Linked DNA regions of Homo sapiens. The protein of the gene in region 2 purifies or fractionates together with the protein of the main gene of each other region. This does not show direct contact. Each region holds a gene or a part of one and is shown on either strand. Other genes may lie near its edges. The genes, in order: PUM3, PHF2, ANP32B, ATIC, BMS1, DHX30 and DHX57.

Region 1 (4,007 bases), about 91 Mb from region 2:
AACAATTTTTTTGTATTATTGTTATATATAGCTCAACTTCCATTTAGAACTTCAAATATTTCCTCTGCTCCTGTTCCAATTCTGAGTAGTGCTCCATAATAAACCTATAGTATCCTTCCTATGTTTGAAATCCACCTAATGGGAGTTCTGATTGATGAACAACCTTTATAAATTAATTTCATGGCATTGCTGAAATTTCCAGTTAATTGAGTGTAATGAAAGAATGTGTCAGTAGGTGTTAACACTCCAAATGCCTGGTAAAAAAATTTGTAATGAAAAAGTTCATGTATCAGCTAACGAATTCTGACTGTTTAACATCAACTGGAAAATTAACTAATTTTAAGCAGAAATGAACAAAATGATCTGTAACACTTATATATTTGGAGACACTGACATACCTGAAGCTATGAATGCTCCTGTGTGAGTATTATGTGTACCAGATCACGTATATGTTGAAGAAACACTTAAAATAACATTTACAAACAACATAGATTAAGTTGCATAGCATGTTGCAAGTAAAGTATCTTGAGAAATTCAAACTAGGGTTGGTATCTGTTTTCCCAAACCTTAATAACACAGCAGGGGAAAAATCAACAGTAATTGCTTCAAAGCAACATACAAATCTTTTTTTAAATGAATGCTCTTAACAGAAGGTTTTCATCTGCACAGAGAATGTATGGAAAATTTCAATGATTTGTGGATTGATTATAAACTCAACTAAGTTCAGAGAATAATACAAAAGAGGCCATAGCTCATCACTGTTTTTTTCTCATTTTAAGTCAGATATCAACAAATAGCACACACACTTCAGTAGCAAATGCTCTTCCAATCCTTTTACAATCTTTTAAAACAATGAAGGAAATTACATGTAGAATTAGGCATGATTTAAAAGTCAACATTGTCACAGTTTTCACAGGGATGTAAGTTATTCATTAAAAAAAATACAGGCTGGGCACAGTGGCTCATGCCTGTAATCCCAGCACTTTGGGAGCCCGAGGTGGGCAGATCACGAGGTCAGGAGATCGAGACCATCCTGGCTAACACGGTGAAACCAGGTCTCTACTAAAAATAAAAAAAATTAGCTGGGCGTGGTGGCGGGCACCTGCCGTTCCAGCTACTCAGGAGGCTGAGGCAGGAGAATGGCATGAACCCAGGAGGCAGAGCTTGCAGTGAGCTGAGATCGCACCACTGCACTCCAGCCTGGGCGACAGTGTGAGACTCCATCTCAAAAAAAAAAAATTATGTTTTGGTCAAAACCATAAATGTGGTGAAGCCACCTGATACCTTGTGAATGTTATAATTTGTCAAAAAGATGGTAGTTTAAAAATCCTAAGGGCCAAGCACAATGGCTATGCCTGTAATCCCAGCACTTTCGGAGGTCAAGATGGGAGGACTACTTGAGCCTAAGAGTCTGAGATCAGCCTGGCCAACACAGGGAGACCCCCATCTCTACAAAAAATAAAAAAATAAAAATTAGTTGGGTGTGGTGGCATGCGTCTGTAGTCTCAGCTACACAGGAGGCTGAGATGGGAGGAAAACTTGAGCCCAGGAGGTTGAGGCTGCAGTGAGCTGAGATCGTGACACTGCACTCCAGCCTGGGTGACAGTGAGACTCCATCTCAAAAAAAAAAAAAAAAAAAAAAAAGATTCCTAAGGACTGACTGAAAGAGTTACATTTGCTTTCTAATATTTGGTATGTTTGTCTAGACCATGAGTGACTGGGAGTAATATTAGACTACTGAGAACAAATATTAGAACTGAGAAATCAACGTGAAGGAAGTGTGTCTTTTGCATGACCAGGCCCTGCTCAGAGAAGGGCACATGTTATACATACCTAGAAAGAATAATGGCACCTCGATTTACACTAGCCCAGGACTTCAGGTTCTTCATACCAACATGCTCTACAAGTGTTTTTGCAAAACAACCTGTAAAATATACTGAAGCTTAGTGAACATCACATAATAAGATATATACTCCCTACCCCCTTCTCTACTGCCCTTAAATCTGCAAATATTTTTAAACAAAAAAGCTAACAAAAGTAGCTTTCACCCAATCTCCCTTTTAACACAAAAAATTCCAGTGCAGGTTTATCTAATGCATTTCTAAAAGAGCCATTTCTTTTAACTCTGATCCAAAACCTAAGCTATGTTTAGCAGTAATTACTCAAGATAAACTATGAATTCTAATAAAACACTCACTTGGTTATGTCTGCACTTCTTTGTATTATTTAATGATTTAACTTTGACCTGAAAGCTATTCAGGAAATAAATGTTTCACAGTAGCACCTCATGCTTGGTTGAAATCAAGTTCTTCCTCATGGAGAAATGCTCACTCACAAGGTGCCATGAACATAACACAGTGTTCACGTGTTCAACAGTGGTTGATAAATGACTGTTCTAGCTTAAACTTGGCATTTCTCTTTACAACGCTTACATACTCACAAATCAAAAATACCATTTTTCTCCCGTTATTCTAGTATTTGATTCCCAAGGTCGTGGTATTATCTTTTTCACTTTGCAATTAATGCTTGGACAAAGGAGAAATTCTGATAGCTAAGATTTAGTGCAGATGGAGGTAGGGACAACCTATCTTGAAGGCAAACATCATAGTCAGGTAGCATGTACTATATAATTCATTCAAAGATACCTGAATGTAAGGACTCTTTAAAAGCCAAGAGGCCTATGGCTATTCAGCCTTTCATGGTACCTGCTAAAGAGGGACAGAGTTCAGCTAGTGAGGCAAATTGTTTTCCAAAGCTGACCACAATAATATCTCCTGTCCTGTGTGCTCTTCTAGAATGCAGCCACTCCCCCATCTATAGGGGGAATCCATGTCTTCTTTTGAATCACAGTGGGCCTCTGTGATTGACTTGACCAAGACAGTATGATGAAAGTGGCATTAAATGACTGCTAAGGATAAATCATGGAAGTGCCACGCATTTACTTTGTCCTCTTGGGATGCTCACTCTTAAAAAAGCAACCACCATCTCGTGAAGGAGCCCAAGCAGCCTAGAAAGGGAAACTGAGGCTGTTGGTCCCCAGCCAACAGTCAGTACTCACTTGCCAGCCATGTGAGTGAGCTAAGCGAAAAGTGGACACTCCAACCACAAACCGAGCAGCCCTAGATGACTCTGACTCTGAGCATAGAGGGGCAGGCTCCACCAGACCCTGATCAAGTCATTGTTTTGAAAACTACTAAGTTTTAAGGTGGCTACTATCCAGTAAAAGAGAATCAAAACAGCTAGACGTGCAGGAGGACAAACTCATTTGGTGCTGAATACGACAAGACAAACACATCAGACCCAAACTGGCAGATTTTAGGGTTCTCAGCACATTTTAATTAAGAGGGAGAAAAACCACTGGACATTAAGCCAGACTACTTTTCTGGCATAAACTCAACTATACATCAACTTTTTAATAATGAAAAAGATTATTCCATATGTTATTTTTTTCTTTAATATTTATCACAAGGCTTCTCTTTTACAAAAAAATTTAGTGAAAAATAGCCCCAGGTCCCCATTCTTAAAGGTAAGGTGAGAAGTGACAGCTCTACTGCTATACTGATTGCCACACTAGCCATCAGAGCTGCCACTTGCCGCAAGACATGAATTCATGATCTGTCACTTTTTTCCAGACATTGTAATGAAAAGCCCAAACTGTTTTAACTCAGTAGGGGAAAAAAATCTCTCCAGTGGTTTAAATACCAGATGGAATTTGGATTTTGTAAGTGAAGGTCTGGTTGGAGATAGGACTGAGAGGGGAATGGCATGCAAATGCTAATGCTGTCCTTCTCTAGAGAGCTGAGTTTCTACAGAGCAGCTGTAAGGCTTACAAAAAACCAGAAAGCGCCAAAGACTGGCTTACTCTTTGGTCACATGTATTTCAATGCCAAATAAACAGGCACTAGTCCAAAACTCTCTTACGAGGATAATCTTCTTCTGCTTATTCTTTCTTCAAACATAGAGATAAATGTCATGCCTTTCTACTGAGGTAATGATACTCAACAATT
Region 2 (4,684 bases):
CGGGGCTGGCTGGAAGAATGTGATGTGGCCACAGGTGGGACAGACAGGCATTTTACTCTAACAGTTGTGTGTTTATTTTTATAGTTACTGTGTATGGTAAGTTACAGTAATGTTTTATTTCAGGAAATGATATGAAGTTTCCTTTTAAAAGCAATATTTTCGAGAGTAAGGAGACATGAGGATTAAATGCAAGGTGGGATCCAAGAACAGAAAAACGACATTAAGTGGGGAACACTGGTTAAATACATTTGAATAAAGCCTGTAGTTTAGTCAGCAGCCCGGCACCAGCGTTAACTCCTTCATTGTGGTACTGGTCCCATGGCTGGGTAAGATGTTCACTGCAGGGAAAGGGAGAGAAGGATACAGGGAAACTGTACCATTTTTGGAACTCTTTTGTAAGTCTAAAGTCCCCTCAAAATAAAAAGTTTAAAAGTATTCAAACTTTTAAAAAGAGAGTTGAAATGTTAAATAGGAAGTAAATCACAGTACAGGCGGTACGAAGATCAGGAAAGAACCACCGGGGCCATACAAGACTATCTGGAGGTGGAGAAACCCCGGGGTCTGGTCACACACGTTCATTTTACTGATGAGAAAAGAAAAGTGATGCTGAGAGACCAAAGGATTTGCCCAGGGCTGTGAGAGCTGTACCAACACCACCAACCCCTGACGGCTGTCCTCCCCATCACACACCTGCCCAGAACAATTGGGGAGCAGGCACACCCAGAGGCTTTCTCCCTGTAGGGTTCACTTTGGCAGATGACTCTTGGTTAGATGCAGGAGAAAATGACTTTCATGGCCGAGGGAAAGCACAGCTTCTTTCAGACCCCACAGCCACCCCAAATAGGTGAGAATAAATCTGTGCTGATCAACTGCCTGTATTGGATTCAATCAGAGACCTCAAATAAGAAAAAAAGGAGCTAGAGCCTCCCCAGACATCCCCCTTTTGGGGATTTTTTGCATGGGCCAATACAGCAAATGACACCAACCAGCTCTCAGGCCAGCTCTCAGCCCCTGTCGCCTGCCTGCCCCTCATTCCTGGAGTTTTTCCCTTGGCCTCGAAGTCTAGTTCAGAACTAGCCTTCCCTTCCCAGAGGGTCCCCTAAGCAGCGAGACAAAGGTCTTCTCGCGTTCTCTCACTCTCCCTACTCTGGGCCCCGAGTGTGGGCAGCAGCCAGGAGCTGACACAGGTGCCCAGAAGGTTCTGTAGCAGAGTGACTGCGCTCGCCAGGTCAGGGCTCCGGTGGAGATGGGGGAGAAGGCAGAGGCCCCACCACTTTCAGGGCTTTTCAGGGCCAGCAGCTCAGCATCCCTGGATATGAGGAGCCTTAGAGGCTCTCACTCACTTTGGCCCGGCCATGAACTTCTCAACGGCTGCCAGTTGAGGGTGTGCATGTCAGCCCTGTTCTGGGCAGAGCCCGGTGTTCACACTCAGTCTCCCTTGCTCTAAGGGGCTTCCACAGCCCTGGGCATACCCAGGAAGGCAGCCCAGATTTCCGTGGGCATCCCCACCCCACAGAGTCCCAGGCCCTTCTAACAGCAGGGAGGTAGGACTCAGGACTGGGGCTGACAGACATAGCAGGCCCTGTCACATCCCAGCCACCCAGGTCCCCACATGTAAACTGGCAGGACTGGACTTGGGGCCACAGCCCACTCTTAAGCACCACTGACCAGTCTTGAAGACCCAGTCTTAGAACCTGCAGGAGGATCTCCTCTCTGGAAGGAGAATCCCGGACCACCCACCACCACACACCCCTCTCTTTCCCCCGGCTGCTTGCTGCCGGTGGTTTGGGACTGGAGCCCCAGAGGGCATACAGCCCTGGCCAGCCCCGGGTCCAAACACATCCCACAGGCAAAGTCAGATGCAAGAGAACCTGTTGGAGCAGTTTGGGCAACACTGTCACCTCCTCTTCCTCCTCCTCCATTTACTTCTTGGTGGGAAGGGACCTGCCCTAGGCATGGGGCCAGGTCATGGCCATCGGCAAGGGCCAAGAGGGCGGGGGTTTTCAGTGTCTCCAAGCGTTACCTCCTTCCCCCCTCCCCATCTTCCTTAGGGAGCATAAGATCATGTCAAAACCGGCGTTCCTGCCGGGAACGGAGAGGAGAGAAACGGGGAAAACTGAAGGCCAGGGAGGAGGTGGCAAAGCCACAACAAACCCCCCTTACCCAACTCACAGACACTATTCTGTCACCGCACTCCTGCCCGCGGACCTGCAGGCCTGCCGGGTCTAGCTGCTCCGCGGGGGTCCGGGAGGGGTCCTGCCCTCGGGGACAAGGTCCAAGGGAGCTCGCCGGCCACGGCGGAGGGTGGGCGCGCCGGCTGCCACCTCGCCGGAGCCCCCACGGACTCCCCAGCCCTGCCGGAGTCGGAGCCCGCCACTCGCGCCTCTCCCGGGACCCGCGCCGGGCTGCGCGCCCGCTTCTCCCGGCCCGGCCAACCCCGAGCCCGCGCGGGGAAAGTTCCTGCAACTTCGCAGGGGGGAGGCGGCGGGGGCTCCGGGCCTCGGCCTCCCTCCGGATGCCCGGCCTCTGCGGCCGCCGCGACCCAGCTGACAGGCGGCCCGGCCCGGGCCTGGAGCCCCAACTTCCCCGCGCCCCGAGCCCCGAGCCCACCTCCCGGCCCGCGGGCCTCGCTTTGTGCGCGGCGGCCAGGGGCGCCCAGCGCGGGCCCCGTGCTTGGCGCCCCCGCCCTGGGCACAAAAGGGCGCGCGGCCCGGCACGGCCCAGCCCCGACCGGGGCGCCCGGAATGCGGCGGCGGCGGCGGCGGCCCGTCCCCGAGCCGGGCCTGCGGGCGCGCAGCCGGGGGCGCGGGGCTCGGTCGGGCAAGGTGGCCGGGCCGGGCCGGGCCGAGCCGAGCAGCCGCCGCGCGCTCACCTGCCGTGGAACCAGTCCTTGCAGGCGTCGCACTCGATCATGAAGCGGGTAACGTCGTAGGGGAGCCGGCAGACGCAGTACACGGGCACCGTCGCCATGTTGCCGCGCCGCGCCGCCGCTCGGCCCCGCCGCTGCGCTGCCCGGGTCGGTCCGGGCCGGGCCGGGGGCCGGGCCGCGCGGGGGCGGCGGGGGCGGCGGGGCGCAGGCGGCGCCGCGGCCGGGAGGGGACGGGGACGGGGGCGCACGACAGCCCCCGCGCGCGCTCCCGGCCAGGCGCGTCCACACAATGCCGGGCGCGCTGGCTGGAGGGGCCGCGCCGGGAGCCGCCCGCCGGCCCGCGGGGCTCAGGGCGCTAGTGTGCGCGGGGGACGGGCCGCGCGCGGGACACAAAAGGGAATGGACGCGCGGGGGCGGCGGGCGGGGAGCCGCGGCCCCACCGAAGGGACCCCCGGCCGCCGAGCGGCCTCTACGTCAGCGCCCCGGGTGGCGCCGCCTCCGCCCGCCGGCCTGGGCCGCCGCTCCCGCCGCCGGGAAGGCGGGCTGGGGAACCCTGCGGGGGAGAAGGTGGGTTGGGGGACCCTGCCGGGGGAGAAGACGGCCGGGGGGACCCTGCCGGGGGAGAAGGCGGGTGGGGGGATCTCGAAGGTGGAAGATAGGCCGAGAAGGGCCCCCAAGGCTGAAGGTAGACCCAGGGGTCCGCGGGCGCGAAGGTGAGCTGGGGGAGCCTTGAGACTGAAAGTGGGGTGGGACCCCGGGGAGAAGGTGGGCGGGACCCCGAGGATAAGATAAGTTGGGGGAACCCGGGCAAGGCAGAAGGAGAGACGCGGGGTGCGGGAGTGGAGCCCGCAGGAGAGCCTTCCTAGTCTAGAAGGCCGACAAGCAAATACTTGGCCCTAACTTTCTTCTGACCCCCACCACGGTGGGGGTGTTCCTCCTCCTCGGCCGCGCTGCCTCCCTCCGTTCCCCACTGAGTTTCTGGTTGGGACACCACTTCCTCTTTCCCCTCATTTTCGGCTGGGGACTGCCGCCTCCCTCGCAGGATCCCGCGGACTTCCCTGATGCTCAGCCCCAGAGGAAGAGGACAGAAGCCCGGGCCGGGAGTGCGCTGGCACGGGCTGGTCAGCTCTGTTCCCTGGCATTTGAGCCCCCCAGGCCCGTGACCTAAGGGGCCGGGCTGGTCAGCTCTGTCAAGAGAGAGCTCCCTGGCATTTGAGCCCCCCAGGCCCGTGACCTAAGGGGCGAGGAGTATGGGAACCCTGGCCCCCGTGTCCAGGGAACTGAGCCCCCACGGTGGGGAGGAGAAGCGGAGGTGCGCTCTGAGGGGTCACTTGCACGCGTTCTAGAGGAGGACTTCCCTGCCTCGCCAGCGCTGCATCCTTGGGGCATCCGCGCTGGGCAGGGGCCACATCCCTGCCCGCCCTTCCTCCCTCACCCTCTTTCTCTCCCCATCCTCCCTCAGCAAAATCCGCATCGTGCTGGGAAATGTGGGCCACCCCTGCTCGGAATTCCAGAATCTCCGGACAGGAAACCTGGCTCAGTCTCCTAGCAGCATCCATGACAAGGCTCCTTAGCCCCTCAGCCCCTCACCATCACCGCCCACCTGCAGCTGCCAAGGGGCCGTTTGCTCCACCGCAGGCGGCTCAATTAAGGTCCTTCCTCCTACTGAGCCAAAATCTACCCTCAGAGTCAGCCACCCACCCCCAACAAGTGACCCCGTGGATACAGACTCAGGGCAGTGCCCAAAGCACTGGGCACTGGGGAAGGGGGCGGGGGGAGAAGTAGCTGGCCATAGAGGGAGAGGAAAGAGCAGGA
Region 3 (4,007 bases), 4.4 Mb from region 2:
TAAATAATAATTGCAAGTAAGCAAAGTGTGTTGTAATGGAGAAGCACCACATACTCATGGTGAGAGCCTATGACCTGGCATTGGGAGGTCTGGTGAGTAAGACTGCCTAAGGAAGTGATGTTGACTGAGACTCCAAGGTGGAGTCAGAGTTAGCCAAGCAAAGAGGATGGAAAGAGCATGCAGAGACCAGGAGGCAGGTGAGAGCATGGTGTGCTCTAGGACCCAGGAGAAGCAAGAACTGCCGCACTAGAGGTCCGAACAACCAGCTAGAGATGCAGGTGCCTCTCAGCCTCCTGTCCCCTGAGTCACAGGGTTATTATGGGTGTTTCTCAGGTTCCTGATTTGAGCAGCTGACTGTGACTCTGGTAATGATACCCAAGAGAAGGTACATGATTTTTTTTTTTTTAACTTTTTACTGTCAAAAATTTCAGACAGTGACAAAGGGTAAAAATAATAGCAAAATGAACCCCCATGTTCTTATCACTCAGCTTCAGCAATTATTGGTCATAGCTGATCTTATTTTATTCCTGCATACCCTTACCTTCTTCCCCACTCCATATAATTTTGAAGCAAATCTTAGCCATTGTATCATTTCATCAGCGAGAATTATAGTGTTTGTCTTATCTACCAGGACTTCTAGCTCTCTGATTTTATGGGACTCTATCGGACAAAGGGACTGAGCTGTAGCACATAGTAGAAAGAAAGTGACTGCAGTTCGTGGCCTTACAGCATTTGTTCTGTGAGCCAGCCCACAGATCCTCAACACTTTGTCCCCTGTGGAGCGTCGAGGATATTTAATGAATCCCTTTTGGACTATTTTTAGAAGGAGAAGATGAGGAAGACGAGGACGATGAGGATGGTGAAGAAGAGGAGTTTGATGAAGAAGATGATGAAGATGAAGATGTAGAAGGGGATGAGGACGACGATGAAGTCAGTGAGGAGGTCAGTGCAGCTGTTTTCTACCCTGCTTCCTATTTGTAATTACAACAAAAGTGGGGGTTTCAAAAAGATGACAAAAGAAAAGAAAAAACACCTTTTGAAGAAATTAGTATACCTGTGAATACATTTACAATATGAATCTGGTTAATTTAGTGTTTGTCTGGCTTTAAATAACTACTAAATAGAATGCCTACTGAACTCAAACTAGTACGGTTCCTGGCTGTGCAAGGTAAGTTCTGGCCCTCTGGGGGAAGGAATGAATTGAGTATTCAGTGTGGTGAGAAAACTGGACATGTTGAGAATTGATGGTATGTCTGTTCCTTCATTGAATTGTAGGGAAGTTTATGTTTACCAAGTCTAAACTTTTTCTTGTATATTCAGTGTAATTCAGTAAATATATATCTGCTATGTTAAAGAGTTGGGAGTACAAAATGAAATGAGATTGTGGTCCTGCCCTGAAAGAGCACAGTCTGGTTTATGAAATACCCAATAATAGAGGATCCCTGAGGAAATAAATGCTATACGAGGGCAGGAGAAAACAGTGTCTTGACTTTGACCCTCAAAGAGGTTTGGGAAACAGGCAGACAACATTAGTTGTTAACAAAACGCATCCTCTTTTGTAGTATAAAAATAAGGCTTGGGGTTTGTGTGATGTCATTAGGTGTATGATTGACATTAAAGTTCTGAAAGAAGCTTTGTATATGAATGGGATATAGAAATTTTTGTCTAAATCTGTTTTGAAATTTGAGATTTTAAGATGTTTTCTTGAATTATCCAGAGTTATATACTAATTAAACATCTAGCAAATGAACTGCTTGCTTCTAAAAAAAATTTTTCTTAGAAAAATTATAAAGCTCGTTAAGGAAAATCAGTGGGTCTTGGTACATCAAAGTAGATAAAAATAACATTACAGTTTCCTGCTTGATTGATATTGTTGCATTTATTTGTACTTCTTAGTTTGGCAGAATTTGTACTATATGCACTTTTCAATTTGGCAGAATTAATTTAATGTTATGCTGTTTGCTATTCTTTAGGAAGAAGAATTTGGACTTGATGAAGAAGATGAAGATGAGGATGAGGATGAAGGTGGGCCTAATGCATGCATTTTGATCATTCTCAGTTAAAAATTAGAGAAAAACATCCATTATTTAGAATATGATACCACTGAGAAGAAAATAAAATACTCTTGGCTCTGGTGGTTTACACATTCACATTCTCGTTTCTATCGTCCCATCAGTGTGTCTGTGCTGGTGCAGGCTCCCTGCTGCTACAGCAGTTATTCCTGTCTCATGGCAAGGGTCCTGTTGGTCTTCAGTCCTCATGGGGTTTTTTTCGGGGTGGTGGTGGTGGTGGTGGTGTTTTGAGACGGAATCTCGCTCTGTTGCCCAGGCTGGAGTGCAGTGGCACGATCTCGGCTCACTGCAAGTTCCGCCTCCTAGGTTCAAGCCATTCTCCTGCCTCAGCCTCCAGAGTAGCTGGGGCTACAGGCGCCTGCCACCACGCCCAGCTAATTGTTTGCATTTTTAGTAGAGACGGGGTTTCACCGTGTTAGCCAGGATGGTCTCAATCTCCTGACCTCGTGGTCCACCCGCCTCAGCCTCCCAAAGTGCCGGGATTACAGGCGTGAGCCACCACACCCGGCCTGTTGTTTTCTTGAGATGGAGTCTTGCTCTGTCGCCCAGTCTGGAGTTCACTGGTGCAATCTAAGCTCACTGCAGCCTCCACCTCCCAGGTTCAAGGGATTCTCTGCCTCAGCCTCCTCAGTAGCTGGGATTACAGGCATGCACCACCACACTTGGCTAATTTTTGTATTTTTAGTAGAGACAGGGTTTTGCCATGTTGGCCAGCCTGGTCTTGAATTCCTGGCTGAATTCAAGTGATCCACCCACCTCGGCCTCCCAAATTACTCGGATTACAGGTGTGAGCCACCATGCCTAGCCTGTTCCCCATGTTTTAAATGTGTTTTTAGGACCAGTCATTTGGTTTACTGTCAAGTGTGAGTTTCTGTGTTTGGAGTTCTTTCATTTTTTAAAAAAAGGCTTTAATAATTGAACCATCATTTTCAGGATATATAAATAGATGTAGCAGTTTCCCAGTTTTGTCAGTGTTAGTCCTTTCCCCACTACAACCAAGACAAATGAAATAGCTGTTACTTATTTAATACTGTTGAAAGTATGCCAGCCTGGACAACATAGACCCTGTCTGTACAGAAAATTAAAAAGTTAGCTGGGACCGGGTGTGGTGACTCACGCCTGTTATCTCAGCACTTTAGGAGGCCGAGGCAGGTGGATCACCTGAGGTCAGGAGTTCGAGAGCAGCCTGGCCAACATGGTAAAATCCTGTCTCTACTAAAAATTAAAAAATTAGTCAGGCGTGGTGGCACGCACTCAAACCCAGGAGGCAGAGATTCAGTGAGCTGAGGTCATGCCACTGCACTGCAGCCTGGACAACAGAGCAAGACTCTGTCTCAAAAAAAAAAAAAAGTTAGCTGCACATGGTGGTGCACACCTATAGTCCCAGCTACTTGGGAAGCTGAGGTGGGAGGACTGCTTGAAGTTGCAGTGAGGCTATGATAGTGCCACCGCACTCCAGCCTGAGTGACAGAGGGAGACCTTGTCTCAAATAAAAAGTCTCATGGTTGTGTCTCAGAAAATCAGGTGTTCACTGTGCTGTTGGCTGATGTTTTCTCAGCATCCACTTTGTCAAGCTCTCAATTACATTTACACTAGATATTACCCTGGTTAGGACCTGGTCACTGCCTTTAAGAACCTGTATGATTGGGAGGCCGAGGCGGGTGGATCATGAGGTCAGGAGATCGAGACCATCCTGGCTAACACGGTGAAACCCCGTCTCTACTAAAAATACAAAAAAATTAGCCGGGTGTGGTGGCAGGCGCCTGTAGTCCCAGCTACTCGGGAGGCTGAGTCAGGAGAACGGCATGAACCCGGGAGGCGGAGCTTGCAGTGAGCCGAGATCAAGCCACTGCACTCCAGCCTGGGCGACGGAGCCAGAGTCTGTCTCAAAAAAAAAAACAACCTGTATGAAATATGATTTAACATATAGTTAAT
Region 4 (4,007 bases), on a different chromosome or scaffold from region 2:
TCCCTTTGTAAAGACAGTGGCTTCTCCAGGTGTAACTGTTGAGGAGGCTGTGGAGCAAATTGACATTGGTAAGTCAGAAAAACCATTTTAGAAGACTGAGAGGAGAGGATTATTTAAATTTTAGTGAGATTTCATTTTGAATTTTATTACTGAGGAAATAGAAAGAAAATAGCTACTTCTGGATTGTGTTTTGGGATTACTATAATTCATTTATATTTTCTTTTTTTCATTTATATTTTCTAAGCTTTTTTTGTATGCAGAGATGCATCTGGGTTATTTTCCTGATTTATTTATTTATTTATTTTATTTTTATTTTTTTGAGATGAAGTCTTGCTGTGTCACCCAGGCTGGAGTACAGTGGCACAGTTTTGGCTGACTGCAACCTCTGCCTCCTGGGCTCAAGTGATTCTCTTGCCTCAGCCTCCTGAGTAGCTGGGATTACAGGTGCACACCACCACGCCTGGCTAATTTTTTTTGTATTTTTTATAGAGATGGAATTTCGCCATGTTGGCCAGAGTGGTCTCGAACTCCTGACCTCAGGTGATCCACCTGCCTCAGCCTCCCAAAGTGCTGGGATTCCAGGCATGAGCCACTGCGCCCAGCTTATTTTCCTGATTTTTAAGTCAGGAATTAAAATGGAAGTACATGCACAATGACTTTATTTAAAAGCGGTTCATAAGCTGATAGGGACATACAAAAATCAATAAGTCTTTTGTTCTTCAAAGGTGGAGTAACCTTACTGAGAGCTGCAGCCAAAAACCACGCTCGAGTGACAGTGGTGTGTGAACCAGAGGACTATGTGGTGGTGTCCACGGAGATGCAGAGCTCCGAGAGTAAGGACACCTCCTTGGAGACTAGACGCCAGTTAGCCTTGAAGGTGGGATGCACTTTCATGATATTGTAAGTTACATCCATGGAGTGCAGTGTTTGCCAGACCAAGCAGTATTCAGTTCTTGGTAGATTGCATTACCTACCAAAGCTTTGCTTGGAGCTGCTATCCTTTTGTTAAAAATGGAGAAACCAGCTATTACAGAGGTGTTCTGTCAAAAAGATTGAAAGAGAGCTGGGCGCGGTGGCTCACGCCTGTAATCCTAGCACTTTGGGAGGCCGAGGCGGGCGGATCACCTGAGGTCAGGAGTTTGAGACCAGCCTGGCCAATGTGGTGAAACCCTGTCTCTACTGAAAATACAAAAATTAGCCGAGTGTGGTGTGGTGTGGTACGCCTGTAATCCCAGCTACTCGGGAGACTGAGGCAGGAGAATCGCTTGAACCCAGGAGGTGGAAGTTGCAGTAAGCTGACATCACACCACTGCACTCTAGCCTGGGCAGCAGAGTGAGACTTTGTCTCAAAAAAAAAAAAAAAGATTGAAAAAGAATTGGAAAGGGGTAATTTGTTGGGCCATTCAGTGCTTTGCTGTCATTCATGGTGTCATCGTGTTGTGCAGCCACCACATAGCACTGAATAGTGAGGAGATGTTGTTTGCTGTGGACGTAGAAAACCATCTTGTCCCCACTTTGGAAAGTGCTGCTCGTGTCTCACAAAACTTACGCTTTTTGTAGGCATTCACTCATACGGCACAATATGATGAAGCAATTTCAGATTATTTCAGGAAACAGTACAGCAAAGGCGTATCTCAGATGCCCTTGAGATATGGAATGAACCCACATCAGACCCCTGCCCAGCTGTACACACTGCAGCCCAAGCTTCCCATCACAGGTAAAGCCCGAGCGTTCTGTGGCATGGTTTGCTGTGCCTGGAGAGTGTGTGTTTCTCTGTATTGCATCTGATGTGGTTCACATTCAGAAGATGATACATTCCGTAATGCCTCCTGTAGCCATCTGATAACCATCTGGTTTGAGACGCCATTTGGACTGAAGAGCACAGAAGTTGAGTAGTCTGGAGTTCTGAAAAGATGTCATGGGGGAGATGGAGATTGGAATGTCTCTGCCACGTAGATCTTTTTGAAGACATGAGACAGGATGGGATGGCCTGGATTTTATAGAGAAGAGGGTCAAGAAAGCCTTGGGGTAAAGGCTTGGTAGGTGTACTGTGGAGGAACCAGCAGAAGAAAAGTTGTGAAATTCCAACCTTTTAGAATGCATTTGAGAACAGAAAAGGGACTGTTTGTTTTGCACATATTGTAAGAAGCCGTTGCCTTGGAATATTGGATCTAGAAGCCCAATTGAAGTAGGCCAAAGCAGAAATGTGATGTTAAGAACTAACAACGATAAAGAGGTTTCTTGGAACAAGAAAGTAGGACTTTCTCTGGGTTTGTAGAGTTTAGAGAGGGTTTTTAAATGTGTGTCCTGTTCTGTTCCAAAGGTAGGCTGTGAGAGCCTGTCCTGCTCTGGTACAAGGGAGAGTAGGGGCAGGGACAGAGGTGAGAGTCCCAGGCATGGAGGCCTTGGAATCCCAAGCACTACCGGTGCAGCTGGCCTTGGCTGAGAGCAAGGGCAGCCTCCTTCCTGCCTGGGGCGGTCAGCATTTGGTGAGGGGGTGCAGCCTGGGCTTCCTTTCCCTGTCATCAGCTGAGAGAGCGATGGGGGAGGGGAGCAGCGTGCCAGGTGGGAGGAGAATCTGAAAGTTTCTTCACGTTTGCCGCGTTCTATTGTTCTGCCTCAGATAGATTTTTTTTTTTTTTTTTTAAATTAAGACAACGGAGTCTCGCTCTGTCACCCAGGCTGGAGTGCAGTGGCGCAATCTCTGGTTCAAGCGATTCTCCTGCCTCAGCCTCCTGAGTAGCTGGGATTACAGGTGCGCACCACAATGCCTGGCTAGTTTTTCTGTTTTTAGTAGAGATGGGGTTTCACCATGTTGGCCAGGCTGGTCTCAAACTCCTGACCTCAAGTTATCTGCCTATCTCAGCCTCCCAGAGTGCTGGGATTACAGGCGTGAGCCACCACACCTGGCCTCAGATCTCAGATACACTTTGACACTAACACTTCCCAAATCCCCACAGACACCCTGTGAAGTCCTGTAGGCTGAAGTAATCTAAGTAATTTGTTTTCTCTCGGCCTTTCTGGGCTTCACAGCACAGTAATCTTTTAAAAATGGAAATCGGATGATGTCAGACCCTACTTAAAGCCATTCCTTGGCTTTTCTTAAGCACTTTGCCCTGCCCCACAAACCCTGTGCTGCCTGCCTGCCTCCTATCTGCCCCCTCAGCAGCTCTCCCTGCGCCTGCTGCTAGCCCCTCCGCCCTGTGCCTCCAAGTGGGCCCAGCTCTTTCCACTCCAGCGCCTCTGGCTCCTTGTCCCCTTCACCCAGAATTCTTCCCTCTGCCCTTCACCGTCCTGGTTTCTTGTTATTCAGGCCTCACCTCCTCAGAGAAGCCTTCCTTGACCGCTTAGACCAAAGTAGCAGCCCATCATGCTTTCATCCCATCACCCTGTTTTGCTGCATGTGTTTCTATTCAATCTGTTCAAATTGTCTTCCCCCATTAGGATGGCAGCTTCCTTTTTTTTTTTTTTTTGAGATAGAGTTTCACTCTTTTCGCCCAGGCTGGAGTGCAGTGGTGCGATCTTGGCTCGCTGCAAACTCCACCTCCCGGGTTGAAGTGATTCTCCTGCCTCGGCCTCTCAAGTAGCTGGGACTACAGGCGCCTGCCACCACACCTGGCTAATTTTGTATTTTTAGTAGAGATAGGGTTTCACCACGTTGGCCAGGCTGGTTTTGAACTCCTGACCTCAGGTGATCTGCCTGCCTCGGCCTCCCAAAGTGCTGGGATTACAGGCATGAGCCACAGCGCCCAGCCAGGATGTCAGCTTTTGAGAGCAGAAGCTGCATCTGTTTTTGTTTGTCGCTGAATCCCCAGGGCTTAGAAGACTGCTTGGCACATTCCCTAAATGTTTACTGAATGAATAATTAGCAACCTGACATTTTGCACAAATTTTTCCTTGTAGGACTTCTTGAAACTGATTTGTCTGCTGTTATATCTGACCTATTTCCTGCTTATAGTTTATATTCTCCATTAAGATTCTGAGACAAAAAAATCCCCATGTACTGT
Region 5 (4,007 bases), on a different chromosome or scaffold from region 2:
TTCTCTTCTTATCCAAATGCTTTTTCTTGGCACTTTCTTCTTCGTCGGGGTCAATTTCTTCCTTAACTTCTTTCTCTATATCTTCATTCTTAAATTTCCAGAAGAAAAAATTTTGTGTATGTTTATGAAGGTCTTTTCTTTAAACATTAGCTTTTTTAAAGTTCTATTTAAACAAGAATCTTAGCAAAAATCTGTTATCATTATCAATAAAACAAAAGAAAACACAACACAACCTTTGTCTCTGAATAACATGGTACTGCTACAGGAAATGGTTACATCTGCATTACAATTAGCTGCTAATCCTTAAGCTGGCTGGGAACACAAACTAGAATAAAAATAACAGACGTGTCCCTCACCCAGATGCTCCCAGACCCTGTTCTAAAGAAATACTAGGGAGAACAGGGACTTCATTCTTTTAAATGACACTTAAATTTAAAAAAAGGAGAATGATGCCAATGGTTGAATGTAAGTCCAAGAAGCTAAGACTTCCGTGAGTGAAAAATCACAGTGGACTTGGCAAATGACTATGGCAAGAAACGGTAGTAACTGTCATCCAAAACTTAACAAGTAAACAAGAAAGCTTCTCTTTGGTCCCCACATCCCCACCCTTTAGGAAGGAATCTATCTATCCAGTCTGCAATCTTCACACATCACAAGTAAGATTTGCATTTCTCAATGTGGGCCTCTCTCAGAACACAATGACCAAGAACAGCCAGCTACGACAAAGTCATACCTGAGTATTGGGGCCTGATTTTCCCTTGTGCACGTCCCCTGTTTCCAAGTCTTCAAAGTCACCGTAGAGCTCCTCTGGGAAAAGAACACCCAAAGGCTGCTCTGTGAGCCAGGTATGCATGTGCTGCTGGCCCCACCTACCACAGGCCCACAGTGTGCTCTGCGTTCCAAGCCTCATTCTCACTGTTCCTGTCACTACACACACAGGCAAAACTTTGCACTAGGGAATGCTTTGTAAAACAGTTAGTATTTCATCATCTGTTTAGGTAAACTAAATGGACCCAATCCACATTTCCGCACTTCACATCAAAATCCCAATCTCAATTTTTCCAGTATACACAATGGACACTCTTTTGTTTTTGTTTTTTATTTTTGGAGACAGAGTCTCACTCTGTCACCCAAGCTGGAGTGCAGTGGCATGATCTCAGCTCACTGCAACCTCCGCCTCCCGGGTTCAAGCAATTCTACTGCCTCAGTCTCCCGAGTAGCTGGGATTATAGGCACCCGCCACCAAGCCTGGCTAATTTTTGTATTTTTAGTAAAGATGGGATTTCACCAATTGGCCAGGCTGGTCTCGAACTCCTGACCTCGTGATCTGCCCTCCTCAGCCTCCCAAAGTGCTGGGATTACAGCCATGAGCCACTGCACCTGGCCAATGGACACTCTTTATGAAAGACACAGAGGTCTATGTGTGTCCCCCAAACGAATAGTTCAAGGAATGAATAGAAAAGCTCCACGCTGATACCAGCACATGTGAAAAGGAGTCTCAATGTAAGTTCAACACAACACAATCGTGTAACACACCTAGGGGAAATTTTAGGTTATATAAAACATAGCATTTAGATTAAGAGTAGAGCCCCAAACCACACCAAACCCATGGGAAGAGCTTATTCACTCATTCATTCCTTCATTTGTTTTTGGAGCTCTGGGCTCAATTATAGTTCCCACTCTTAAAAGAAACAGACAAGTAAGGCTGGGTGCAGTGGCTCACGCCTGTAAACCCAGCACTTTGGGGGCCCGGGAGGCAGACGTTGCAGTGAGCCATAATTGCATCACTGAACTCCAGCCTGGGTGACAGAGTGAGACCCTGTCTCAAAAAAAGGAAAATAAAAGAAATAGGCAAGTTAAAACTCATTTGGGAGAGCAATGTTTAGAAGGCTATTAAAACATTTTCACATAAGGGCCAAAGAACCAGGTAGAAGTTATAATAGATAGGAAGCTCCTATTTGTAATAAAAGCAAAAAAGGATAAAATAGGAATAAACCTAACAAGAAATGCACCAGAACTTTATTTTTTTAAAAAAGAAGAAAAGCTTTAATATGCTACCAAAGGACAAAAGGAATAGCATCACCACCAACACTCATCGGTGCTCTCCACACCAGGCACTGTGTTAAGTACTTTCCTTGCCTTAACCACATTCTTCAACCCAAGGAAGTAGGTGTTGTAAATATTATCTACTGAATAATGATATGTCCTCATTTGAAAAGAAAGACTCAACATCAAAAATACGCCAATTCTCCCTTTAGCACAGTTACAACCTGAAACCACCATTAAGGATTTCTGGTCTAGAGAAGATAACACATTATACCCTCCTAAGAAATAATAGACAGGAGATGATCAAAGGAGAATTCTGAAAGGTGGAAAGAAAAAGGCTGCTGAGGGACTCTAGGACTAGGGAATGCATAGTGGCCAGGTGTCTCCCTGGACCTCATCCAATAGGAAGTTGACCAGGCCCAGAGTTTCCCAACTCCCAACGTAGCAATAGAAGGCAACCCAGGCAGACTCAGTCCCCCCAGATCAAAGGAAATCTTCCCCATAACAAGAAAACCAGCTCCACACACCAAGACAACCACCACTCCCCACCCACCTAGCTGCAGCAGGTGGCCCAGCCTGGGGCAGCTCCCCTGTTCCCTCAGGTGGGCAACAGCAGGGACTGGTGGGAGAATCCCAGTGATACATATAAGCCAAACAGACCAAAATAACACCATGAAGGCTCTGAAATTAAATTGCCATTGGAATCACAGCCCACAAAGTAGACCAGGACCTACAGACTAAACCCAAATAGGAGGACTGCCTGCAAAAATAAAAAAATTACATAGGCAGATGTTGGAACCATCTGACTCATCACTTATAACAGTCAGCATAAATATGCTTCAACAAGCAACTACAAATCCTATGGCAACAAACAAAGAACTGAAAACGTCAGCAAAGAAACTGAAGAAGAATCAAATGGAAATTACAGAAATATAAAATACAGTAACAGAAATTAAAAAAAAATCTATCTAGATGGGCTCTATTGAGTAAAAGTGGAGACGACAGAGGAGAGAATCAGAGAAGCTGAAACCTGTATCAACAGAATTCACCCAGTCTAAACAATAGAGAGAAAATAACCTGAAAACAAATGAACAGAGCTGCACGGACCTGTGGGACAATAACAAAAGACCCCGCATTTATGTTATCTGAGTCCCACAGGAGACCAGAGCTGCAAAAGCATGCAAATAACTAATTCCTGACGCTTCCCACATTTAGTGAAAGATATAAACTTACAGATTCAAGAAGCTGAGCAAACCTCAAAGTATAACAAAAGAAAGCAACACTGATTAAACTTTCAAAACTAAAAACAAAGACCAAAAATGGCAGAATGCCTGTAGGGACATGCCAACTCAAATGCCATGGAGGCCAGAAGGAAGTGGCACAACATTTTCAAGTGCTTAAAAAAAACCAACCAAAGAAACAAACAAAAAAACCAAACCAACAAACAAAAAAACTGTTGGTTGCAAATTCTATATCCCATGAAACTACCCTTCAGAAATGAAGAGAGAAATAAAGACATTATCAGAGGAAGAGAATATAGGAATTTGTCTCTGGTAAATTTAGAAATGCTAAAAAGTGGCTACAGAAATATGTTCTGTCATTTCCACAATACAAAAAATTAAAACAAAAAAATCAAAATAAAAAAATGGCTACAGAAAGTTCTTATGCAGAAGGGATGAATATGGGACTATGGGAGGAGGGACAAAGGAAAGACCAGAAATGTGGATACATACACGAGACAATCCGCAGTTCTTAAAATCACACTTGACAACTGAAACAAAAACTATACCACCACCTAATACTCAAGCCAGTGATTCATACAAGCGGAAAAGGTAAAGAGACATAAATGCAAGGCAGGTTTCCACACTTTGAAGTGGTAAATACTGGTACCAGTAGACTACTATATTACAATATGCATATTGTAACATCCAGAGCAAACACTTCAAGACTATACAAAGAGA
Region 6 (4,007 bases), on a different chromosome or scaffold from region 2:
TAACGGTGTAGCTGGACACGGACCAGGCCGACTGAGGTGTAAAGATGGTATCAATCCTTAAAACGTCCCTTTTCCCCTCCAGGGTTGGGGTCTGCTAGGTCCCCGGAATGAGTTGTTTGACGCAGCCAAATACCGAGTGCTAGCTGATCGCTTTGGCTCCCCTGCCGACAGCTGGTGGCGTCCGGAACCCACCATGCCCCCTACTTCCTGGCGGCAGCTGAATCCAGAGAGTATTCGACCAGGGGGACCTGGGGGCCTATCCCGCTCTTTAGGCCGGGAAGAAGAGGAGGACGAGGAGGAAGAGCTAGAAGAAGGGACCATAGATGTTACCGACTTCTTGTCCATGACCCAGCAGGATTCCCACGCTCCACTCAGGGACTCAAGGTACAGATGGAGGATGGGGATGCAGCAGAGGCTGGCTGTGCCTTGACACGGGGATGGGCGAATGTTCTCTGCTAGCTTTCTCTGAGATGGGAGCGCCCCTGCCTCACATTTCAGCCTGTGTGCCCCATCACTCAGTGTGTGTCTGCCCATTCTTGGGGGACAGCCAGCTGTGGTCTTCTATGTGGCTGGGCTTTTGCAGAACAGCAGCATGGAGCCCCTGCTCTCTGCTATCTTATCTGTGTGAGGGAATGGAGGGAGCAGTCCCCATGCAGTGTGGCTGTGGGAGGAGCAGAGACGCCCGGTTTCCCATCCATTTCATGCCTTCTGCCCTTCTGGCTCCCTGCTGCAGCGCAGCGTCCTCACCCCTACATCGCAGAGCCTCAGGGAAATTGGTCCAGGAAGAGAGAATTCTTTCAGTTAAACTTTTGGTCCTCCCAGGGGGAGTTCCTTTGAGATGACAGATGACGACAGTGCCATTAGGGCTCTGACCCAGTTTCCACTTCCCAAGAACCTTCTGGCCAAGGTGATTCAGATTGCAACGTCATCCTCCACAGCTAAGGTGAGTTGGGTCTCCTAGAAGTTTGTGTGGGGGCCGTTTACTTGGTCATGTCTGGTGTTCCCTAAAGGCAGGTTTAGAGAGGGCTGAGGGGGTGTGTTCCTCCAGCCCAAACCTAGGCCAGGTGGAGGAACTCCTGCTTGGGAGGAAAAGCAGCAGGTGTGATGGAATGGAGGTCAAGCCTCAGCAGCACAGGGAGTGGGCTTGGGGGCCGCAAGAGCAGAAGACCCATACCTCTTCTGGGCGGTGGATTGTCAGTGGGGAAGGGTTAGAGGTGTGGGTCTTGGTGAGGTATGAATTTCTCTCTTGCTGCCAGGCGAAGGGGCTTTGGTCATGAAATGCCTAACCTTGTTTTTACTTTAACTCGTTGCTTTGAATTTTGTCCTGCTTGTCTCTTTAATCACCTAGCCTTGCTTCTCATGTAAAATAAGACTCTCTCTAGCTAAGAAAGCCGTACAAACCCCAATTGACCCCTTAATTTACAAGACACTAAGGGCTCCTCACCCAACCCCCTTTCGTAAGGAGTTGGCCTGGGTAAACAGATCCTCAGCATTTCAAAGGAGCCTAATTAACTGATAAGGTACGAACACCAACAATATATGAAGTTCCCAGGAATTTTCTCCAAGAGATAACAACATAAAACCTTGAGTTCGTGTCTGGCGTAGACCCTATATCTAATTATAATGAAAGATTTAGAATCTTGCACCTGGTACTGTTGCTCTTCTTGTAACCATTTGTCTTTTAAGTTGTTTATCACTCTGTAACCATTTTGATTCTTTTGATTCTTGCATGTTTTTACTTCTGTAGAATTATTACATTTAAGTCCCCCTCCCCTTCCTAAACCTAAGTATAAAAGTTAATCGAGCCCCTTCCTCGTGGCCGAAAGAATTTTGAGCATTAGCTGTCTCTTTGGCCGCCGGCTTAATAAAGGACTCTTAATTCGTCTCAAAGTGTGGCGTTTCCTTAACTCGCCTAAGTACAACAGTTAAGCAGAGCTTCTGTCCAGGTGCAGGGTCTTTTTGCTCCCGCAGGATGTGCCTGGTTTTTAGCTCATGCTGACAGCTTCAACCCACAGCTGCCACGATGTTGCCGAGATGACAGTGGGCTAGGAGGGCAGGTGATGGCATTGCCCAAGCACTGTCTTCTGCAGTGGAAGTCGAGGTATAGCAGGAGAAGCGAGCCTGGGACTAGGGTGCCTGAGCCCATGGGCCTGCTCCTGGCTATGCAGCAGCACCTCTAGCATGGCTCACGCCTGGCACCTGCTGAGATGGTGGCTCATTCTGTCTCTGGGCTCCTTGGCATTCTGAGAATGCCCCAAGTCTCTTCCCATTCCCTACATTTCTGTAACCATCTCTCTTGCCTTCCATGTAGAACCTCATGCAGTTCCATACTGTGGGCACCAAGACCAAGCTGTCTACACTCACCCTGCTCTGGCCCTGCCCCATGACCTTTGTTGCCAAAGGGCGCCGCAAAGCAGAGGCTGAGAATAAGGCGGCAGCCTTGGCCTGCAAGAAACTGAAGGTGAGTCCAGGAAGGTCCTGGGTGTGGTGCATGAGAATGTCTTGAAGCTCCCCTCTGCCAGTGGCAAATGGGTCCCATTTTCTAGGAAATGAAACCACCACAGCAGGCCTTTTGCCTGGCACAAAGACAGCTGGTATGCAGGCCTCGCTTGTAGGCCCTGTGGCTGTTGCCATGGCTTTTCCAGAGGCCCTGTGGAGATACTTTGCCCGTGACCCAGCATTTTCCACACTGTTGGCCTGAACCTGGTGAGGCCGGGAGGAAACTTGCTCATTGTTCTGAATAGTATAAAGCCGGGAGGAGCCGGGCCTGTTTTGAGAGGCAGACCTGGTGTCCAGTATGATCCTGATAACCCGGGTTTTGTGGGCAGAATGAATAATGTGACTTGTGACTGCAGTGATGATTGAGGAAGCAGTCAGGATCAAGGTAGAGACAGTGTGGCAGACAGCTGGCAGTTCTCTTTTTTTTGAGACAGGGTCTCTGTGGCCCAGGCTGGAGTATAGTGGCACGATCATGGCTCACTGCAGCCTCGATCTCCTAGGCTTAAGCGATCCTTTCACCTCAGCCTCCTGCATAGCTGGGACCATAGGTATGCACCACCACTCCCAGCTTATTTTTAAACATTTTTTGTAGAGACAAGGGTCTCACTGTGTTGCGAAGACTGGTCTTAAAATCTTGGGCTCAATCAGTCTTTCTACCTTCACTTCCTAAAGTGTTGGGATTGCAGGCGTGAGCCACCGCTCCTGGCCATGGCCGTTCTCTTGAAAGGGGCTGGTGGAGTTAGCTGATGGCACAGTAGTGGGAGGGAGTTGGGATTGTCTCTGACTGCCTGAGGAGTTAGTAATCTCAACCCATGTTGGTGGAGGTTTAGTTTGCAGACCAAGATAGAAATGGGCCTGCTTTACTCTGAATGGTCAGGTGCACCATTTCATGGGTACAGTTGGCTCTGGGAACCATGTTTTAGTTACAGCTGATGGTGAGAGGTAACAAGAACCTGGAGAAAGACGAGGAAGAGGGGACAGGCAATTGGTGAGATAAAGAGGGCACAGATATGCTACCTGTGACTCGAGGGCAGAACAAGGACTGAGTAGAACTGGAGGCATCTGAGCTTTGGCCTGATGCACACGCACTGTGAGCAGAAGCACCTTGGCATGGTAGGGGCCTGTCTGGGAAGGAGCAAGCTTTGCAGTGGCTGGAGGGCCATTTGTCAGTGAGGCTGGTGGGTAAAACCCATGAAGTCTGGGGAGAGGGCAGAAGCCTGTTCCTGCAGCAAGGAGCTTGTGTTGGCACCTCCTGTGGTATGAGGACCAGATTCCTGTCCTTTAGGTCCTTATAGCTGATGGTGCCAGCACGCCCAGAGGCAGGGGGTTGGCCCCTGTTGGGGGAAGACTTCTTTAAGGAGGGAGTGTTTGATCTGGGCTCCGAAGGGTGAGCAGAGTCCAGCCATTAGAGGTGACAGGAACACAAGACTAGTTTTACCCATGTGCGTGAGGTATTGGAATGCTATGTTTTATCTCTGGTGAGGTGGCTTTAGGTATGTAGGGAGGTA
Region 7 (4,007 bases), on a different chromosome or scaffold from region 2:
TATCTTTATAAATCAATCATTTAAATACCATTAATCTGAGAGAATGTTTTATTTGGCTTCCTCTTCCAAGTTGTTCAATGATTTTGTTAAAAAAATTTCTTCTTTCAGATGTTCATTTCCAACAGTGGCAAAATGACATTATTTACCATTAATTTTTTTTCCCATTGTTTTCTGGAGTTTCTACAAAAAGATTATTTGCCCCTTAGAGATTTCCAATGTTTTCTGTATAGTAATTTAATATTTATTATTGTCTTGTTCTAGGAATTATTTCTTTTTCTTTTGGTTCATTCTTTTTATCTAAAAGTCTTTCTTTAGTTTCTAATTACTTCATATTTCTTATTTACTAATAATAGTAATGTATTATTTCTTCTAATAGTTCTTCTGGTTATATGCCTTCTCTGTTCAATTCCTTTTTTTTTTTTCTTGCTCTGTCGCCCAGCCTGGAGTACAGTGGCGCAATCTCGGCTCACGGCAACCTCCGCCTCCCAGGTTCAAGCGATTCTCCTGCCTCAGCCTCCCGAGTAGCTGGGACTACAGGCGCCTGCCACCAATCCTTTTTTTTTTTTTTTTTTAATGTTTTGCTTTTAGCTATTTTCTGCTTTCCTATCAGTCCACCAAGTTTACTTAGACTTTTTTTCTTCTTCTCAAGATATTTATTGTGGTACAATACTTTGTGGGAAAACTTCATAATTTTCACAGGACTTTCTCTTTTTTCCCACTAGTTTTCTTTTACTGCTCTAGGGCATGATCCACATGACAAACTATGATTAATGCCATCCATCTTCCTGGCCCTCCTCAGTACTTAAAATATTCAGACTTTTAATTTTTTTTTTTTTTTTTTTTAGAGATGGAGTCTCATGATATTTCCCAGGCTGAAGTGGCTCTTCACAGGTGCAATCATAGCACACCACAGCCTTGCACTCCTGAACTTAAGCAATCCTCCTGCCTCAGCCTCCTCAGTAGCTGGAACTACAAGCATGCACCACTGTGTCTGGCAAGAATTTTTATTTTATGCCTCACCCTTTAATGACTTCTAATTTCATAAGATAAAATCCACATGCTTTATTATTCGTGGTGCTTAAGGCCCTGGAAGGTCTGGCTCCTGCTGCTTCTTCCCTGTGCTACTTTCCCCTTTGCTGCTACACAGCAGGTGCACTGGGCTTCCTTGTTTCTGGACTCACAAAGCCCCTTCCCACTGCAAAATCTTCAAACATACTTTCCTTACCCCCGTTTGTCACCTGGGATTCCTTCTCATATTTCAGTTTTCTTTTCTTTTCTTTTCTTTTCTTTTGAGACAGGGTCTTGCTTTCTTGACCAGGGTGGAGTGCAGTGGTGCTATCACAGCTCACTGCAGCCTCAACCTCCTGGGGGCTCAATTGATTCTCCTGCCTCAGCCTCCTGAGTAGCTGGGACCTTAGGTGTGAGGCATCACGCCTGGCTAATTTTTTTTTTTTTTTTTCTGTATCCCCAGTAGAATGACTACTGGCTATTTTTTGTTTTGTTTTGTTTTTTTTACTTTTCGTGGAAACATGGTCTCACTATGTTGCCCAGGTGGGGCTCCAACTCCTGAGCTCAAGCGATCCTCCCACCTTGGCCTCCCAAAGTGCAGGGATTATGGGTGTGAGCCATTGCGCCCGGCCATACTTCAGTTTTGAATTTAAATTGTCATCTTACAGAGATATGATCTTTGAGCATCTATGGGTCTCTCCCTCCAAACACAGCATGCCGTTTATTCCTTCATAGTGCTTATTCCAATTTACAATCATTTGCTTGTTTACTTGTTCATTATTTGTTTTTTCTACTGGACTGTAAGAGATGAGGGGGAGCCATACATGCTTGTTCATCACTGTATCCCCAGCAACTAATATATCACTTGGCATTTAATGCAGGCTCAATAAATACATGAATCAATGTCAGGACTGAATGGCCAAATAAACAAGGAAGAAGATACATTCAGCCACAGCATGCATGACATCTGTTATTTCTACTAAGTACGGTATTCAACTTAGCATAATGCCCAGGATGGTGTGAAGTATACCTTCTAACCTAACAGGATGACTCCATCTAATAAGTGATGAGCATGTGCTGTCCTTTTTAGTGTTACAGACCCTGGAGATCAAGAAAGCAGTTGCTCTTCTCTAACATAGGCCTTCCTTGTGGCAAATTACCATTACTAGCTGCATGAAACTGAATTGGAACTAGAAAACAATTTTTTCTGCCATGCCTTCAATTCAGGTGAGTGTGTGTTCCCTGGGAAAGTCTTTGTTTTACCTTTCTTCTGTCCTCTCATGAACTTCATCAACAATGATATGGGAAACTCCTTGTAGAGCTGTATCTCCTTCTAGCCTTCTCAGCAGCACTCCCGTGGTGCAGTATAACAGTCTGGTGGCTGAGGACTTACACATGAAAGGGCAATATAAATCATTAATAAAATTTTCAAAAAAAGGAAACATTACTGGAAAGCCATTTTGAATGGATAGTGATAAAAAATATTGGAAACACCAGCAGTTCCATTTAATAGGAAACCATACTAAACATAGTTTCTTGCCAGGGACAGTAATAAAAGCCTTTCTACTTCATATCACAATGTTAAGATTTTCATAAAAAGCATTAAAAAACAGTGAATAATGAAAACAGTTCTCAATCTGTCTGCTCCTTATTTGGTTAAATGGATTATGTCCCAAGTTCAAGAGCAAAACAGTCTTTACTAGATGACTTCTGCCAATAAAAAATAAAAAGCTTTACAGAGGAAATTTAGTACAACCAAATAAGAGTTTTTTTTTTTTTTTTTTTTTTGAGACAGAATTTTGCTCTTTTTGCCCAGGCTGGAGTGCAATGGCGCAATCTCGGCTCATTGCAACTTCCGTCTCCCAGGTTCAAGGGATTCTCCTGCCTCAGACTCCCGAGTAGCTGGGATTACAGGCGTGTGCCACCACACTTGGCTAATTTTTGTATTTTTAGTAGAGATGGGGTTTCTCCATGTTGGTCAGGCTGGTCTCGAACTCCCGACCTCAGGTGATCCACCTGCCTTGGCCTCTCAAAGTGCTGGGATTACAGGTGTGAGCCACCGCGCCTGGCCATAAGAGTTCTTATACCAAAATATTTCTAAATATTTCTAAATATTTAAATAAATGATTACCAAAGGTAATCATTAATTTAAAAATAACCTGAAAGTATATATCCCAAATTGCCCATGAATCTCCTAACCCCCAAAACTTTTTATACCTAAAAACCATAAATTTCTGTTACCAGGAAATAAGCAGAGCATACAAACCTTGACACTTTCTAACCGAATCTGGTATCCCACGGTCAGACCCACCCTCTCTGCTCTTTCTTTAGCAACGCGTTCAGCAACAGAGATTGCAGAGATTCGTCGGGGTTGGGTACAGATGATGTTGGCTACCTTCTCAGGTGGTCCATTCAGAGAATCATCCAGAATAAACTGCGGAATTTGTGTGGTTTTCCCACATCTGTACATTAAAACAAATAAGTCCTAAAATGAAGTTTTCAAGGGCTAGTTAACTAAAGAAGCAATCATATGGAATGAGAAAAGTGATAAAGCTAATTAGAATAAAAGTTGTTCAGTTTCAGGTATTTTCTAAAACAACCTCCTGACTTATTACCAAGAGGTGGGAAATTCTAGGAATTTGCACTCCAATCAAAAGGACAATCAAATAATAGTTTAGTAACATTTGTAAAATTGGGACTATTGAACAGACATTAAATTAAGGTCTGTAAATGCTTCTAGGAACGTAAACTCTACACATGAACCCCAAAGAAAAGGAGTATTAGCTTATGATTATCAAAATATTTTATAGGTATTAATTTAGCTATGATTAGGCTGAGGTTAAAAAGATAAACTAGAAGGTACGAATTATTACCATATCACTGAGTCTGGACACAAATATAATTATTAAATTGTATACTCTTGAATAAATAAATGAAGTCTGCAATTTGTCCCTGCTAAATAGGAGAATGTAAAGCAGGAAAAATAACGCACCATAATT

The links.
Region 1: the proteins of PHF2 (region 2) and PUM3 purify together in Homo sapiens (affinity purification with mass spectrometry, with the first as the bait; one large-scale study listed by BioGRID). This does not show direct contact.
Region 3: the proteins of PHF2 (region 2) and ANP32B purify together in Homo sapiens (affinity purification with mass spectrometry, with the first as the bait; one large-scale study listed by BioGRID). This does not show direct contact.
Region 4: the proteins of PHF2 (region 2) and ATIC purify together in Homo sapiens (affinity purification with mass spectrometry, with the first as the bait; one large-scale study listed by BioGRID). This does not show direct contact.
Region 5: the proteins of PHF2 (region 2) and BMS1 purify together in Homo sapiens (affinity purification with mass spectrometry, with the first as the bait; one large-scale study listed by BioGRID). This does not show direct contact.
Region 6: the proteins of PHF2 (region 2) and DHX30 purify together in Homo sapiens (affinity purification with mass spectrometry, with the first as the bait; one large-scale study listed by BioGRID). This does not show direct contact.
Region 7: the proteins of PHF2 (region 2) and DHX57 purify together in Homo sapiens (affinity purification with mass spectrometry, with the first as the bait; one large-scale study listed by BioGRID). This does not show direct contact.

What each region holds. Positions count from the first base shown.
Region 1 is NC_000009.12:2,805,981-2,809,987, forward strand, and holds part of PUM3 (pumilio homolog 3), read right to left. Parts: intron 1,925-4,007; coding exon 1,834-1,924; intron 1-1,833. UniProt on the Homo sapiens protein: Inhibits the poly(ADP-ribosyl)ation activity of PARP1 and the degradation of PARP1 by CASP3 following genotoxic stress. Binds to double-stranded RNA or DNA without sequence specificity. Involved in development of the eye and of primordial germ cells.
Region 2 is NC_000009.12:93,575,060-93,579,743, reverse strand, and holds the start of PHF2 (lysine-specific demethylase PHF2), read right to left. Parts: upstream 3,161-4,684; 5' UTR 2,971-3,160; coding exon 2,873-2,970; intron 1-2,872. UniProt on the Homo sapiens protein: Lysine demethylase that demethylates both histones and non-histone proteins. Enzymatically inactive by itself, and becomes active following phosphorylation by PKA: forms a complex with ARID5B and mediates demethylation of methylated ARID5B.
Region 3 is NC_000009.12:98,010,448-98,014,454, forward strand, and holds part of ANP32B (acidic leucine-rich nuclear phosphoprotein 32 family member B), read left to right. Parts: intron 1-823; coding exon 824-942; intron 943-1,973; coding exon 1,974-2,025; intron 2,026-4,007. UniProt on the Homo sapiens protein: Multifunctional protein that is involved in the regulation of many processes including cell proliferation, apoptosis, cell cycle progression or transcription.
Region 4 is NC_000002.12:215,325,262-215,329,268, forward strand, and holds part of ATIC (bifunctional purine biosynthesis protein ATIC), read left to right. Parts: coding exon 1-68; intron 69-725; coding exon 726-877; intron 878-1,560; coding exon 1,561-1,717; intron 1,718-4,007. UniProt on the Homo sapiens protein: Bifunctional enzyme that catalyzes the last two steps of purine biosynthesis.
Region 5 is NC_000010.11:42,813,399-42,817,405, reverse strand, and holds part of BMS1 (ribosome biogenesis protein BMS1 homolog), read right to left. Parts: intron 808-4,007; coding exon 734-807; intron 89-733; coding exon 1-88. UniProt on the Homo sapiens protein: GTPase required for the synthesis of 40S ribosomal subunits and for processing of pre-ribosomal RNA (pre-rRNA) at sites A0, A1, and A2.
Region 6 is NC_000003.12:47,840,795-47,844,801, forward strand, and holds part of DHX30 (ATP-dependent RNA helicase DHX30), read left to right. Parts: intron 1-82; coding exon 83-384; intron 385-822; coding exon 823-943; intron 944-2,311; coding exon 2,312-2,461; intron 2,462-4,007.
Region 7 is NC_000002.12:38,851,783-38,855,789, forward strand, and holds part of DHX57 (putative ATP-dependent RNA helicase DHX57), read right to left. Parts: intron 3,471-4,007; coding exon 3,275-3,470; intron 2,397-3,274; coding exon 2,272-2,396; intron 2,184-2,271; exon of another isoform or gene 2,099-2,183; intron 1-2,098. UniProt on the Homo sapiens protein: Probable ATP-binding RNA helicase.